Regions from separate parts of the Homo sapiens genome. Here region 2 is linked to region 1. The links come from fine-mapping of genetic effects on gene expression. Tissue or cell type: whole blood. Region 1 holds a variant in brackets; the other region holds the start of a gene. All regions are shown on one strand. Distances are from middle to middle.

Region 1 (8,264 bases):
TTGATTATGTTGACAAGGGGTAGCACACTCAGCAGTCTATGTGATGTGCGTCAGGAGAATCTGGGTAGAGAAATGCCGATGTTAGAGACTGGCATGGCTGATAGAATTCACCAGCATGTTAGAGATTGGCATGGCTGGTAGAAGTCACCAGCATGTTAAAAACTGGCATAGCTGGTAGAAGTCACCAGCATATCTGAGATTTGCATGGCCGAGATCTCCCAGAATGAGCAAGTGCAGTTAGAAGAGCAGCTTCAAGATAAGACAAGGAGCATTAACATTAAAAAAATGAACTGACTTTCTAAGCATAACACAAAACATGAAATTTATTATGTAAAAAATAACCCAAAGCTTTCTCCATGGGATGCCGCTTTAAGCAAACCAAAAAGAGAAAAGAGAAACTTGGAAATTCACATGTAATGAATGAAAGAGGCTCATTTCATTAATACATATAGAGCTCTTAACGATTAATAAGAAAAAGATAACTCCAAAAAATGGGCAAAGTTATGAATAGACTGTTTGTAGAAAAGGAAATGTAAATAGCCCTTACACAGCGGAAAGGTTTCAATCTCATTCATAAGAGAAAGCAAAATAAAATTATAAAGTTGTCAAATTAACAACACTGAAAGATGACTAACACAGAGCAGGAAGGTGAAACAGGCTCTCTTGTATGTTATTAATGAGAGTATAAATGTATACAATTTCTATACAGGGAAAGTGGATGATATTAATTAAAATAAATGGCATGTATTATTTGTTTCAATGTACTTCCAGGGTTTGACCCTACAAATTTATTTGCTTTGTGGGAAAATATGAATGTTCAAAAATATTCATGTCAGCGTTACTTGGATTATCAAAAATCTAGTAATTTCTTAAATATCAATCAATATGTGACCAATTAAATGCATTTTGGTTTATCCCTGTGATGGAATTCTATGCAGCTGCTGAGAAGAATGAAACAGTTTTATCTATGGCAGGTGTGGAACCAGGTCTCATAAAAGTTGTTAAATGAAAAAAGCAAAGCATGTGATTATGTGTATTAAGGAGTCATCCCTCATTCTACTCTTGTCTTCTGGCACATCTCACATTTTCCCTTGTTATTTCCACTCCTGGAATGCTCTTCCCATAGATCTTCCCAATCTGGCTTTTTGTCATTCAGATGCTGTCTCAACTCAAATATTGACTCCTCAAAGAGGCCTTCGTTGAACACCCCATGTAATGTTGCCTCTCCACCCCCTCTCACATTATCATGCTTTAATGTCTAATCATCTGTCATTACTGGAAATCATCTTACTTGCATTTCTACTGCTAATTGCCCATTCCTTCCAACATAAACTCTGTGAAAGGCCATCTGCTTCACTCACCATGGTATTCCCAGTTCCTATCAGTGTCTGGCATGGAATAGAGTCTTAAAAAATTGTTGAATGAATGAGTAAATAAATCAAGGTTTATGGTATGCTAGCATTTATGAGCAAAAATATTTAATTGTAGCTGGGTGCAGTGGCTCATGCCTGTAATCCCAGCACTTTGGGAGGCCACGGCAGGCCAATCACCTGAGGTCGGGAGTTCAAGACCAGCCTCACCAACATGGAGAAACCCCATCTCTACTAAAAATACAAAATTAGTCAGGTGTGGTGACACATGCCTGTAATCCTAGCTACTTGGGAGGCTGAGGCACGATAATCGCTTGAACCCAGGAGGTGGAGGTTGCGGTGAGCAGAGATTGCACCGTTGCACTCCAGCCTGGGCAACAAGAGCGAAACTCCATCTCAAACAAATATATATATATATATATACACACATACATACACACACATATATATACACATATATATACACACACATATATACACATATATATATATACACACACTTATATAATTGTATGTGCATGTATGTGTCTGTATATTTCCTATGTGTTCTCTACGTGTGCATGTATACACGCAGATAAAGACACACATATTTCTGCCAAAGTAAAAGTTTGGAGACTGGGGAATAGAGGTGGGATAAACCTACGTTTTTCATCGAATACCTTCCTTACATACATGTATGTGTCAGTTATTCAATAAATGCTTTTCAAATAAAAATACAGGATAGGCAGAGGAAGGGGAATACCCAACGGAGTTTTTTTTAAAAGAGCAATCAGAGAAGTAGAAGAAAATCAAACATATTGTGGTGTCATGGAAACCAAGAAAGGGAATTTCAAGGATGGAGTAATCAACAGTGCCAAAATGATACTGCGATTTCTAGAATAGTATGACTGGAGCCAAAGATGGCTTTTAAGATGCCTACTCCAACCCAGAAAGTACTGAATTCACCTGTACAAACCTCAGCGGTGCATGTGCAAAGGTCTACTGACCAAACAACAAAACACACATACAGAAATGCTGTCTAGCCAGAGATCATATAATGACTGCCACACTCCATCCAGGGTTAAAAGAACACAGAGAAGCCATTCAAATCTGTGTAATCAACTGCTGGAATGGGAAATAACATTGTCTTTCATTTTAAATGCTGAAATATTTAACACTGTTTCAAGATTTGTACCCAGATTTGTTTTAATCAGGTAGGGTAAAGTGACAGACACAGAAACAGCTGCCTTTGAAAGAACAGTTTATTACTCACAGTTCCTAAGAGGGGGAGGCAAGCTGTGTCATGCAGGGCCACGTGGAGAGGCATACTGTCTCTTTCTGTCAGGAGACAGAAAAAGAAAGGGAAGACCATGCCCGAGAGACTTGATTGTGGTTTCTATGGGAAGAAATGAGTGAGTGGAGTAGAAAACTTAAGGAAGTCTAAGATAGGATAGTTTGAATAATTTCAGCAGGCTCTGGATGACATGCGTGGTATCTAGTAGTCCAAGACCTCACCCTGGGGTGATTAGGGTGGGGAAAATGTTGACTTGGCATGTGAGAGTTAGATAAAGGAGGTGACTGAGTATATGAGCTCTGGATTGGTTGGTTTGCATCTTAATGACATTCTCACAGGGGACACATTTGCCCCTTCTTCTAAATTCCCACTTGTCCAGTTATCCCAAAGCCTGGGAAAGTATTCATTTACCAGGAACTGCAAACTCTTGGTGATCTAGCCACTTCCCTTCAGCTGAAAGTTGCCACTTCATAGGGACAGAATCTATGCAGTTAAAACAATGGGAACTTTCCCTTCTTAAAGATGTTTGCATACCTAGGAACTAGTTAGCACTGACAGGAGCAGTCTCTCCCAGCCAACAAGGCCTCCAAGATGTTGAAGCATCATAAAACATAGAAAATAAAAAACATAATCAATACACACAGTCCCAAAATGATATGTAAGACAGTGTGCATGGAATAAATTTTTTCTGTAACCCTTCAACTGGACCATCATTAATTCGAGCTGTCTTTCTATAACAAATCCCATCATGGGTCTGAAAACAATGCCTCACCAAATCCTCTCTTCACCACAGCCTCTTACTTCCCAGCTCTCATTTATTTGCTCTGAGACCATCCCTTGTCACCTTCATCAACAGCTTCAATCCTTTGGCCCAGATGTTCTCTCCACCTGTGTGCCACCTAAATGAAGCTCCTTCACTTTCTTTCAAAATCAAGATCTCTCAGACTAATGTTTAATTATTTGAGCCAACACTCTCAACTCCATTGTCTGTGTTCTACACACCCAATTTACAAACCTCAATCCGATTTTCTGACATCTCTAATACAAATCTGTGAGTGCTCAATACTTCTGAAGACAAATCTCATTACTCTATAACAGGGCCACTATAATTCTGTAGGATCCAAACTCAGACGGGCCTCATCCTCTGCTGCCCTGCTATACTGCTATATCAGTGGGCTCCTTCCTTGGCTGCATACTGGAATCACCCAAAGACCTTTAAAACTACTGAAGTCTGAGCCTGACACCAGAGATTCTGATTTGCTTAGTGTATTATTCCATTTTCATACTGCTATAAAGAGCTGCCCAAGACTGGGTAATTTGCAAAAAAAAAAAAAAAAAAAAAGAGGTTTATTTGACTCACAGTCCAGCGTGGGTGGAGAGGCCTCAGGAAATGTGCAATCATGGTGGAAGGTGAAGGGGAAGCAGCAGGCATCTTCTTCATAAGGTGGCAGGAAGAAGTGCCAAGAGAAGAGGAAAGAGCCCCTTATAAAACCATCAGATCTTGGGAGAACACACTCACTATCACGAGAACAGCATGGGGGAAACCACCCCCATGGTTCAATTATCTCCATCTGGTCCCTCCCTTGGAGAGATTATGCGGATTTGGGGGATTACAATTCAAGATGAGATTTGGGTGGGGACACAAAGCCTAATTATATCACTTGGTCTTGGTGTAAGTCAGGCATTGGGGTTTTCAACAACTCCCTTTAGGTGATTCTAAGGTGTAGTCAAGGTTGACAGTCACCGCCCTCTAATCATTACTCCAGTCCTTCACAGTGGAAGAGGCTACCCTGCTTCTGCTTAAATTTAACCCTCCTTGAGTTCCAGATCTCATCTTCACCTACCTCCTCAGAGAGCTCATACATTATTTACCACTACTATCTCCCATGCTTAGAACCCAGGTATATGAACATCTTTAAGGTAGGAAAGTTCCAATTATTCTAATTGCACAGGTTCTTTTTCTTGACATAGCAACTTTCAACTGAGGGGAAGTGGCTAGATCACCGAGTTTGCAGTTCCCAGTCAATGAATACTTCCTACAGAAGGTGGGTAACTGGACAAGTGGACAGTTAAAAGGGGGCTGTAGGGAGGGAACTAGAACACCACTATCCAGAAGGAAAAAAGAAAAGGTGAAGTAAATGTGGAAAAATACTTATTAAAATTTAATGAAATTTCTCTGCATATAAGACCATTTCCCACATCTAAGCTGAGGCTCACTTAGA[G/A]AAGTAATATTTGTGTAGCCCTTTGGGGGGCAACATTTCTCCAAGATATTTGAGTTGTAGGTAACAGCTAAGCCTTTATATTAAGCCTATTAATGACTTAAGTCTTTGCCTGGAGCTTCTGAAGTACCAGTCCCACATAGTGGAGATTAAGATTTTCTATGATCCTCCTGACAATGGACAAATGTACCTCCTTCATCTTACAATGGGAGGGGAGGCCTCCTAACCACACAATCTCCCTTAATCCAGCAGTTGGATCCCTCAGCTGCTCCTGGTGGCCATCTTCCCTGCAGTGTCTGCCTCCTCCCCTGGCTGTGCCTGATTGATGGGTCTTACTGACTCACCATGGAGGTCCATGTTATCTCCAGCCTTCAGCTGCTCCCGAAAGCAGTTGCTGCCTTCTGGGAAACAATCATGAAAGTGAATTTAATCCATCTTGTCTCATTATCATTAAAGCACACATCACAAAGGGAAAAGTAAAGTGCCTCACCTGAACGTTGCTGGAGCACAGCACCTGTAGAGGCAGGGCTGGGCCTCGGAGAGAAAAGTGGCAGTGCCGTAGCACAGGGGCATTGAGCCAGGCTACCTGGATCTGGATTCTGACCCCTGAAGTTCCTGACTGTGACCTTGGACAAGTTCCTCTAACCTCTCTGGGCCTCTGAGTCTTCAGTGGATAAGCTGGAGTTGACATTAGCACCTGCCTCACAGGGTTGTGATAATCACAGCTAATATAGGAAATATGCTTAGAACAGTGCCTGGCACTGTTAGCTACTATTAGTAGGGCATTATTAATAGCAGATGTTTTCCGGTAGGCAGAATCAGTGCAGAAGTCCCAGAGCTGTTCTAAGCAAAGAAAATCACTAGCTTTATACTGCAGGCCCCATACCTTGAAAGGACACACCTTGGAAGAAAAATGGGTATATATTTGGTAGGGCCTGGGCAAGGGGCTTGCTGGTTGGAACAGCAGGAAAAGAAGAAACCAGGTTTCCAGTCTACCTTTTCCACCTCTGCTTGTGTGGGTTCTGGGAGGGTTTCTCTCCAAGACCTCGTATCTTTGCTACTGTTGTTGTCCCTGGACAAATTGGGGATCCCGAGGTGGCTGTGATTTTGTTTTGCTGAACTGCCCTCTGGCTCTCTTTCCTGTACATTGGGAAATTCTGAGATGGGAAGACTAGTAAAGTACTTGGAAAGGCTAAGAACTGGCTTAGAAGTAAAGTTGAAGTTAACAGGGTCAATGAGAATTTTGGTGGCTTTTTTAAAACTTACATCCCTTCAGAGTTATTTAAACAGAAAAAATCATTTATTAGGGAAAGACCCACAGAATCTGTAGGAGGACAATAGAGTTGGGCAAAGATGAAGCCAGGAACCAAGGCACAGCATATAGAGGGACTGCTCTAGTGAAGACGCCACAGTTCCGCTGCTAGTGACCAACAATATATGATGTTGGGGAGTCAGATACCAGACCCTCAGCCCTGAGAAGCTCAGTGCTCCATCACATCCTTCTCTCCATAAGATGCCTGCCTCAACACATGACCCTGTCCAGGAGCAGAATCATGCATAGGCATCTAAGTGAGGAAGCCTGAGTTACTGGGAAGGAGTCAGCTGTAATGGGGAAAGGGATTTCAGGACATCAAAGATGTCTGGGTGATTTTTAGGAAGGCTTGCAATGTGGTGTGGGAGGAGCCCTCCCTCTCTCACCCCTCAACCTCCACATCAAAATCAATTACCCGTCATTGCACTGGGACTTATGGCCCATGACGGATGCAATTATATCCTGGCCACAAGGCTAGGGAAGGAAGTCTAAGGAGGTTCAGTCATAATGTGATTATGTTCACAAAATATAGGCCTATTTTCAGCTTTACCTAATGCCACTATTAAACTTGAAAGTCATTGGACTTTGGCAAAATATTTTGCTGCATGAGTAGTTGAAATTAAAAGCTTCAGCAAAAGAAATTTACTCCCAAATTATTTAAACCATTTTACCCAGAATATTCCTAGAAAACTATGTTATCAAAGAGTACAACATGATATCGTTCATTGTATTTTCCTATAAGGACAATATGATAGAAGGTTGGTTTTCTGACTAAAACTTACCATTAAATTAATCCTCTATATGGCCAAAAATACACCAAAATAAAAGTATTATCAATCTTTGAAATAAAGTAGTGAAATAAGTCTAATTCTTTAATAAAATCTGTATAAGCAGTACTATTCTTAATGCAAGTGTCCCAATCATAAAAAGCACATATAGATCCTAAAAAATTTAACTTGGTATTATAAACTTAACTATTTTTATAATAGGTTAGATTTACTAATCTTTTATAAAGTCTAGATTGTTTTTCGTAGAGAGAACTTTAGAATAAATGTTTAGACAGCCTAGATACCTTAAAATTGTTTGTTAAAGATGTTTGAAATAGATATTTTCTTTTCTTTTTTTTTTTAGATGGAGTCTCACTCTGTCAACCAGGCTCGGGTACAGTGGTGTGATCTCAGCTCACTGCAAACTCTGCCTCTTGGGTTCAAGTGATCCTCCTGCCTCAGGCTCCCAATCAGCTAGGACTACAGGTGTGTGCCACCACACCTGGCTAATGTTTGTACTTTTAGTAGAGAGGGGATTTCACCACGTTGGCCAGGCTGGTCTCAAACTCCTGACCTCAGGTGATACACCCGCCTCAGCCTCCCAAAGTGCTGGGATTACAGGTGTGAGCCACCACACCCACACTTCTTCTTCTTTAAACATTTCTTTGATAAGCAGAAACCTTCAAAATCATTCTACTGATCTTAATGCTACCTCAAACTAGCAGAGCAGAATTTTAAATCTATGTTTCATGGTGGCTATATTAATAATGATTATAGTGCTTCTCCCACCACAACTCAAAAAACTAAAAAACTCTAAAATCTAACCAGTGTCATATATAAAGCTTAGAGTCAGACCTCTGTCTCCATTTAGGAAATACTTGACATTGAGCCAGGCTTGTGTGGCCTAACCCAGCCCCAATTCTCTCCTTCCTCAAATGAAATAATATCTATGAAATTTCTTGAAATTAAGCACTGTACAAACATAAATTATTTTTATTTGTGGAAAAAGAAGTGGAACATTCTCCTAGCAAGATGAGAGCTGGAGAGTCATCTTTATTAAGGGAGCTGGGAGAATTTCACTGGATTCCTTTTCATTTGACTTAGAGGTAGATGGAGAGAGGAAGGAGGTCTGTAAGGCAGTTTCTCAGTCAGCACCCCTCACTTTCCTTCTCCATCTTCAAGACAGCTGCTGTATATTCACTATCAACAGGAACAAAGACAAGATGAAAAAGGGCTCCTGTGCCTCTGAACAGCTTCTGGACCTCAATTTACTCTTGGATAATCATTTCTGGCCCCTACACTCACTACCCTCTTTTGACCTCC
Region 2 (8,000 bases), 98 kb after region 1:
GTGGGATTGATTCACAGGAGCACCAGTGAATGTTTTTAGATGCTGAAACTGCTCTGCATCTTGACTGAGGTGGTGGTGCATATACATTTGTGAGAGCCCATTGAACCGTACACTTGGAATGGCTGCAACTTATTTTATGCAAGTTGTCCCTCAGTAAAGTTGATTTTGGAATGGAAAAATAATGATGTCTTAGTAATTGAGGTTGTTCTGCTCTGGGAGCAAGCTGGGAGGCCTGCAGGAGAACTCCAGCAATTCCTAGCCTCCACCATTCTCCTAGCCAATTAACATTTGCTCAGTACCTTACAGTTCATAAAGCACTTTCTCCTCTTTTGATCATTACACTGACTCTGTGGGGTGGACGTGATTAATCTCATTTTATAGCTAAGGAAACTGAGGCACATTATGGCTAAGGGAACTGGCCAAAGTCTCCTGACTCAAAATCCTGCTAGCTTTTTATTTTCTGAGACCATCCCTGAATATAGCCTCAGAAATCATCTAGGTCTAGGGAAACTGAAACCATGGTCCAGAGAACATAAATAATTTGACAAAAGTTGTACTGCTAGTTAAGAACAGAGACTAAACTTGAAGATGTGCCTCCTCTCATGACAAACTAACCAGAAAATGTCAAATCAAGATAATCCTGAAAGGAGACAGAAAGTGGACATTCATTCCCCATATGCAGAGACTTTCAGACCAGGATAAAGAGCCTATCCTAAAACAAAAAGCAAGACTTTTTTTTCCAGGGTTCTAGACTCCATGTCTCACTGCATGGAGCAGTCTCCCCCACTCCACACACCCACCCCCCACCCCCCACCCTCTGGAGTCCCAAGGGTCTTGTAACTTTAACAAACTGCAGCAGCAAGCACATGCATTACCTCACCACAGTCTGGCTTATGTCCTAGCAGCAATTGTCCAACGCTTGCTCCATTTCCCCCCTTCTGTTGGCTTTGTACCCTTCGCCCATTCCTCCCTGCTGAAATCACAAAGCTCTGACCCCCGCCAGCCAGCGTGAGCCTCCTCCTCCTTCCTGGAGTCTTTAACATTAGAAAAGAGGCCTCTGGTGCAGAGCAATGTGTGTCAGATGGCCCCTCTGTATACACATTTTAAAAGCATGTAAGTGTGGGAGTAGAGGGAGAGAGGGAGGGAAAAATACACGATGGTGTGTACACAGCGAGGAAGCAATCCTGGGAGGACTTACAAGAAACAGTTGATGGTGGTTAACTTGGGGAACAGAAATTAGAGTGTTGGAGGGCAGAGGGTTCTACTTCCCATTTTGTTTCTGTATGTTCAACATGAATTTCCTAACCAATGTACATGAATTACATTTATTTATGCAAATAAGGATAGTCTGAGCCAAGAACTGATGGGCCGTGTTTGTCATATACGTATCTGCATAAGAAAGCAAAAAAAAAAAACAAAAAACCTGAGAAGCATTACATTTTGAAAATGAGAAAAAGCACCTATAATCCACCACCTCCCTTCATTCACAGTACCGAAATGTGCAACAATGTAAATGATAGAAAAATTATGAACAATTTACCCAGATGGGATGGAGCGAAAGAAGGAGGGGCCAGGAGTGGACCCCCAGCCTCTTTAGTAAATGCATCACTCCCCTTTGAGCTACTGTGATCCCTGTGTGTACCTTGCCTGGGGTCCACTCCTGCCCGCCATTTCAATCATTTGTGCAATTATTTATGTCTCAACCCCCAGCATCCCCAAATTAATAGCTTATATAGGGCAAGACATTGTCCTTCTGTTCTTAGGTGCTTCTAGAGCTTCCTGCATGCATAGCAGAAACTGAACAAACATTTACTAAATAGAATATAAGAAAGTCTCGGCAGAGCGCAGTAACTCAGGCCTGTAATTCCAGGACTTTGGGAGGCAGAGGCAGGGAGATCACTTGAGATCAGGAGGGATCACCTAAGGTCAGGAGTTCGACACCAGGCTGGCCAACATGGTGAAACCCCGTCTCTACTAAAAATAGAAAAATTAGCTGGGTGTGGTGGTGCACGCTTGACGCTTGTGATCCCAGTTACTCGGGAGGCTGAGGCAGGAGGATCGTTTGAACCAGGGAGGCGGAGGTTGCAGTGAGCCAAGATTGCACCACTGCACTGCAGCCTGGGCCACAGAGCGAGACTCCATCTCAAAAAAGAAAAAGAATATAAGGAAGTCCGCAAGAAAGTGAGAGGGCACGTGGTTTGACACCACTAAGATGGGTTAAAATATCCTTCCCTGCCACCTGTGGCTGGAACCTTAACCAGATATTCATGTCTGCTGTGTAAGTGCATGTCAAGGTTCAAACTCCTTTTCTTGTTTACCCAGCCCTGGCCCACACCTGCCTTTCTGCCCTGATTCCCAAGACAAATCCTGCGCCCCAGCAGTCAAACTGGTCCATTCACCACTCCCTGGGCGCACCTTGAGGCTCCCTGCCTTCAGGCCCTTGCTGGTGCCTTTCCCAATCTCTGCCACTGAAAACCCAGGTCACACCAGCTCTCCCTGAAGACTCAACTAATGTGCCCCGATGACTGGGCTTGCTTCCTCTTCTAATCTCCAGATGCTTCACTGCAGGTTGTACCCCACCTTGCATTGTGGTCATCTAAGCCTCCCCTGCTAGAGGGTGAAGATATGACTCTTACCCCTTGCCTTCCCCGGCCCTATTACCCAGCTCTGGGGCCTGCACAAAGACAGAAAGAGGAATATAGGAGTGTAATTCAAGTCAGAGGTAGAATTAGGTTAAAAGCTGGATCAAGATTGGGTTGAGTTTAGGATTAGAATTGGGAAAAGGTTCGTCAATTCTTAATCCCACCTACTAGGCGGCGCCCGCAGTCTCATTCGGGTCAAGACGCCTCCGGTTCTTGAATTTGATTACCAGTCTAGCAAGTTTCTTTCCTGCCCTACTGTCCCTTTAAGGAGGTGAACCAGGTGAGGCCGGGACTCCGCCCCCGGCGCTGGCCCCGCCCCCCGCCCCCGCCCGGCCCGCCCGGCTCTCCTAGTCCCTTGCAACCTGGCGCTGCCATCCGGGCCACTGTCCCAGGTCCCGGCCCGGAGCTATGGAGCGGCGCTGGCCCCTGGGGCTAGGGCTGGTGCTGCTGCTCTGCGCCCCGCTGCCCCCGGGGGCGCGCGCCAAGGAAGGTACCGACCCCCGCCCCCGCGCCCCCAACCCCCGCGCCCCGCCCCTTCCCGGGGCCCGGCCAGCACCCCCCTGCAGAAGCCGGCATTCCTAGGGGCCATGTTCCCCGAGACCCTCGCCAGCTCTCTCGCTGTGCCCGACCGCCAGGCTATCGACTGGCCAGGCCCATCTTTGGTCTTTAACCCCAAGCGGCTGCTCTCCCGGGTCAGTCACCCCCACTCCCGCAGGCCAGCAATCTGCTCCTGGGAGTGGGGAGGGAATTCCGGACCCTTGCCAGGAAGTAGCACCTGCACCCGCACCCCTGCCTGCATTCCCAGACAGTCCCAGCTTCAGGTGCCCACCCCAGAGATCTGAGCCCTTGGAAGTTGAAGGTGGGAAGTCGCCTCCTGCCAACCTAGGCCAGGGACAGAGGGAGCTGCCTCCGGGAGAAGGGTTAGGACTGACGCCACAGGGGTTCCCAGTTGTCCGAGTCGAATATTCCATGTGAAAGTTGGAACACCCTCTCCGGCCTTACTCCCCCCCACTTCCCAGGCAGGTAGCTGTGCCTCTTATCCCCACTTCACGGCTCTGATCACTGGCCAGGTCAGGCCAAAGCAGGCTTCGGACAGTGGAGGTGAGCCTCCCTACCCAGGAAACCCCTTCTGAGGTCCCCGGTCCACCCTGCCCACTCCTGGCTAGCAGAGGTGAGCTCCTCCTGCCCTCCACGCGTTCCAATCCTGCAGCTGATGGGTGTCCCAGGACGCAGCAGCCTGGGTAACTGAGCGTCTCGTGGGGCTGCTCTTCTTGCATTGACTTTGGTCAAAGACCCAGCGCCCCAACCCTTGTCCCACTCTACCTGCCTTCCTTCACACACACAAAGAAGAGTGAAATCCCTGGAGCTCTTCACTCCTCAGTCCTGAGCCCTTTTTCTCCCCTAAGCCTCAGGAAGTCACAGCTTTTAGGAACAGGATGTTGCAGCCTGGGGCTGAGGCCCCAGAATGATTAATGTGGGCTGCAGGGGCACCTCCTCCCCCAGAGGTGACAGACTTCTTTTCTCCCCACTTTCAGTTACTCTGATGGACACAAGCAAGGCACAGGGAGAGCTGGGCTGGCTGCTGGATCCCCCAAAAGATGGGGTAAGTGTCGGAAGAGGGAAGGATCTTGGAAAACTCCTGAAGGCCAGTGGGAAATGGGGTGGAGAGGTGGGTGGAGGAACAGAGAAAAGAGCAGGAAAAACTGGAAGTGTCTCCTCAGGGAGGGGGAGAGGAGGCTGAGTCAGAGCCTCCTCAATGGGACAAGGGGTGGGGGGGTCAGACTTCACCTCAAGATGAACGCTTGAATGGCCTGGCTCCTCCAGTGAATACTTGGGAATATTGTGAATACAAGCTGATACTTGTGAGGGGGAGAGGAGCTCACATACCCGGGGAGAGAATGCACCATGCTGGGGATGGTTGAAGGCTGAGACCAGTGCTTTGCTTGGGGAGGGATAGAAAAGGCAGAAAAGCATCCTCAATCTGAGATCCATTCATCCCAATGAAGTTGCATTGATAGGTTTCAGGGGGTGGGGAAACCCCATGAAAGTGTACTCTAAATTCTGTATATGTAAGCGGGCATTTTTTTTTCTGGAGAGACCAGCCAAAGCTTTCATCAAATTCTTCAAAGGGTCTTTGACTCCTCCGAAGTTAAAAGCTGCTCCCCTAAAGGTTTCTGAGCCCTTAGCTCATCCTCCACACCTCCTCAGGCTGACTGCGTGCACACCATGCATTCCAGCTGTTTGAAAGTGTCAGAGCTTGTTCCAGTTCCCTTCCTTCCTTGGATGTTCCTAAGACTCAGTGAACAGGTTGTGAGGTGGGTCTGAGAGAGCATATTCAGACTCAAATGCAGAGAGCAGCTCTTATGATGTACAAAAAACCAAACTCAGTTTTTTCCTACTGCACTCTCAACACAAATCACTTCGGTGACCTGTGGTCACCAAAATGCGTGTAGGGATTCCTCCCGCCTGCAGTCAGTTCTCTCTGGCAGATTCTTCAGTGGACAGTAGCTGAGTGTCCTCTAATCTTATTCAGTTCTTACACTATCTACCTGGAGATAGCCTCAGGTTGAGGGCTCAGCCCCACAAGACTGCCCTCCTCTAGACAACAATCACAAGTAACATGTTGTCACCTATACTTCTGTTCCATCGGCTGTAATCAGGTTTACCTGACCCTCCTCCTCGGGTTCAATTAGTTTGCTAGGATGGCTCACAGAACTCAGGGAAACATTGACTTGGATTTACTGGCTTACTATAACGGTTATTACAAATGGTACCATGAACACCAGATGGAATAGCTGCATGGGGCAAGGTATATGTGAAGGAGGCGAGCCACCCTGCAGGGACCTAATCATGTATGGCCATCCAGAAGCCCTCCCAACCCCATCCTTCTGGGCTTTTATGGAGACTTCATTACATAGGCGTGATTAATTAGATCATTGCCCACTGGTTATCAGCTCAACCTTCAACCTCTCTACCTTCCCTGGAAGTTGGGGGTGGGGCCGAAAGTCCCAACTCCAATCACAAGGTTGCCTTCTGCCACCCAGGCCTCCCCCACCCCAGTCTAGTTCCCATCCCCGGCAGTCAGCTCACTAGCATATAAAAAGACATTTGTCACTTCAGGGATTTTGAGGGCTTTAGGGGTTGTTTGCCAGGAAATGTGGACAAAGACCAAATATATATTTTACAATTCACAGCACCCTTTCTGCCAGCAGCACAGCTGGTCACAGAACCACTTAGGGGGCTGCCTAAGTTACTGGAGCATCTACAACTCTGGCTCTGGAACCCCTTCTCTCAGGGTTTCCTTCCTTACCCCAGTACTTGAGACTTCAATCCAGCCCCTGTTTCTGGGGTCAGGGTTACTTGCTTTCTTTCCCTCTGGGTCCTACAGTCCTGGCTCCGTTCTCTGTTCTCCTACAGAGTAGCCTGTAATTAGAGCTAATAGACTAAACCATAGTGGATCCTCCAGGAGGGGCCGTTTGGAAGATCCAGCCCTAATAGTTGACTTATCTCATAAATCAGCTAATCACCCACAGTGATAGCTGCAGGTCAGACTTCTGGCTCCCATGGGCCTTCCTTGGGCCCTTGACACCTCCACCCAAATAACTCTTCCCTAATTTGACTGGAATGGCAGCAAGGCCACTTTCTCAGCACAGGCAAAACAGTCCTGCATGCTAGGAGGGCAAGGAGACAGCCAGCAGTCATACACTCCCACTATCTACCTTGTCCCCCTCCTTCTCCCCATCTTTTCAAAACACACACACACACACACACACACACGCACACATGCACACGCAGGCATTCAGGTCCAGAATGCACCCATGTGGCAGCCAGCAGCGCCTGAGTGATAAGCAAAAGGATCCTTACTGCTGATCCTGGACAGCTGGCTCTCGCCCATCTGTCACTGCTGGAACTGGGAGAGGCAAGGCACAGCTGGGAACATCTGCTTCTCCTGGCTCCAGCTTCAGCCACGGCAATCTGGCTAATGAGCTGCACGTTAACCACTCACCACCCTGCCCACCTGACCCCCGCCAGTGCCTTCCACTTGGGCTTCCCCAGCACAGCCTTCCTTAGGAGAAGCCTCCTGGTGCCTTTTTCATTCCAGCTTCCTTGCCTTTTAGACACCCCTTGCCCAATCTTTGAACTCCCTAACATAATGCAGAAATATGTGCCTCATAGCAGCTTCTATTTCTGCCCCACCTCACCCCAAATTTTTGATTAATGATTTTTTTTTTTGCCTTTTCCCAGAGCTGAGGGTAGGGATGAGGGCCCCTGCATTATAATGGAGTAGAAACCTCAGGAAAGTGAACTTTCTAAGGGCCTCAGTCTATTCTGCATTAAATTATGGGGTTGCAACAAAAATATCAATAGAATACTTTATAGAATTTGAGAGCTTTTGAAAATTCATCTGACAGAGGAAATAAGAATGGTTGAGAAGAGTTTTTGAAGAATGAAATGGGAGACTTGTCTGACAAGCAGATATCAGAACCATCAGCTATAACTAAAACATATGTCTTGCACAAGATCACTCAGGTTAATGGGACAGGATAGAAAGTCCAAAAACGAGCCTACACATATGAGGTTGTAGTATGTGATAGCATCGGAATTGCAAATCAATATGGAAAGTAATACCTAGTTAATAAACTGACGGTTAGATATTCATAATTTTTAAATAAATATATAAAGATATATCTCTCCATAGCCACGCGCGGTGGCTCACACCTGTAATCCCAGTACTTTGGGAGGCCGAGGCGGGCGGATCCTGAGGTCAGGAGATCGAGACCATCCTGGCTAACACAGTGAAACCCCATCTCTGCTAAAAATACAAAAAAATTAGCCAGGCATGGTGGCGAGCGCCTGTAGTCCCAGCTACTTGGGAGGCTGAAGCAGGAGAATGGCGTGAACCCTGGAGGCAGAGCTTGCAGTGAGCCAAGATCGCACCACTGCACTCTAGCCTGGGCAATAGAGCAAGACTCTGTCTCATAAAAAAAAAAAAAAGATATATCTCTCCATTATACACAAAATTCATTCTAAGAAAACTAAAATCTCAACCTAAAAGCCAACCTACACAAATTTTAGGAGAAAATATAGATCATTATAATCTTGAGATAGGAAAACTTCCCAAGTCAAATATACAACCCAGAAATCATGAAGGGAAATACTGTAGATGTTATTATGTAAGAAATTTACAATGTAAGTCCACATCAAAACATCATTAGCAAAGCTAAGTGGTATGGCAGACAGGGAGAAAATATTTGAAACATACATTTGAAGGAAATGATTCGTGTCTATAATAAGTTTAAAAAAGAAACTCATCCAACTGAGTAATCAAAAGATAATAGAATGTCATGCAAAGGTTAT

What was found. PIP is the estimated chance that this variant, and not a neighbour inherited with it, causes the effect.
Region 2: it holds the start of EPHA1-AS1, and the variant in region 1 is fine-mapped to the expression of EPHA1-AS1 in whole blood (INTERVAL, PIP above 0.99).

Annotation. Positions count from the first base shown.
Region 1 is chr7:143,501,773-143,510,036 of GRCh38, reverse strand. It overlaps EPHA1-AS1 (EPHA1 antisense RNA 1), which reads right to left. Exons shown (of 5, transcript NR_033897.1): 3 at 5,207-5,263. Among named protein-coding and RNA genes, the nearest start is that of TAS2R41, 28 kb to the right of the region's middle. RefSeq lists a silencer at 5,123-5,583. The variant G/A (reference allele first, on the strand shown) is at 4,866.
Region 2 is chr7:143,403,856-143,411,855 of GRCh38, reverse strand. EPHA1-AS1 (EPHA1 antisense RNA 1) reads right to left here and starts at 4,043. Exons shown (of 5, transcript NR_033897.1): 1 at 3,970-4,043. EPHA1 (EPH receptor A1) reads left to right here and starts at 3,000. Exons shown (of 18, transcript NM_005232.5): 1 at 3,000-3,132; 2 at 4,178-4,245. The coding sequence starts at 3,051. RefSeq lists enhancers at 2,316-2,928, 6,513-7,027.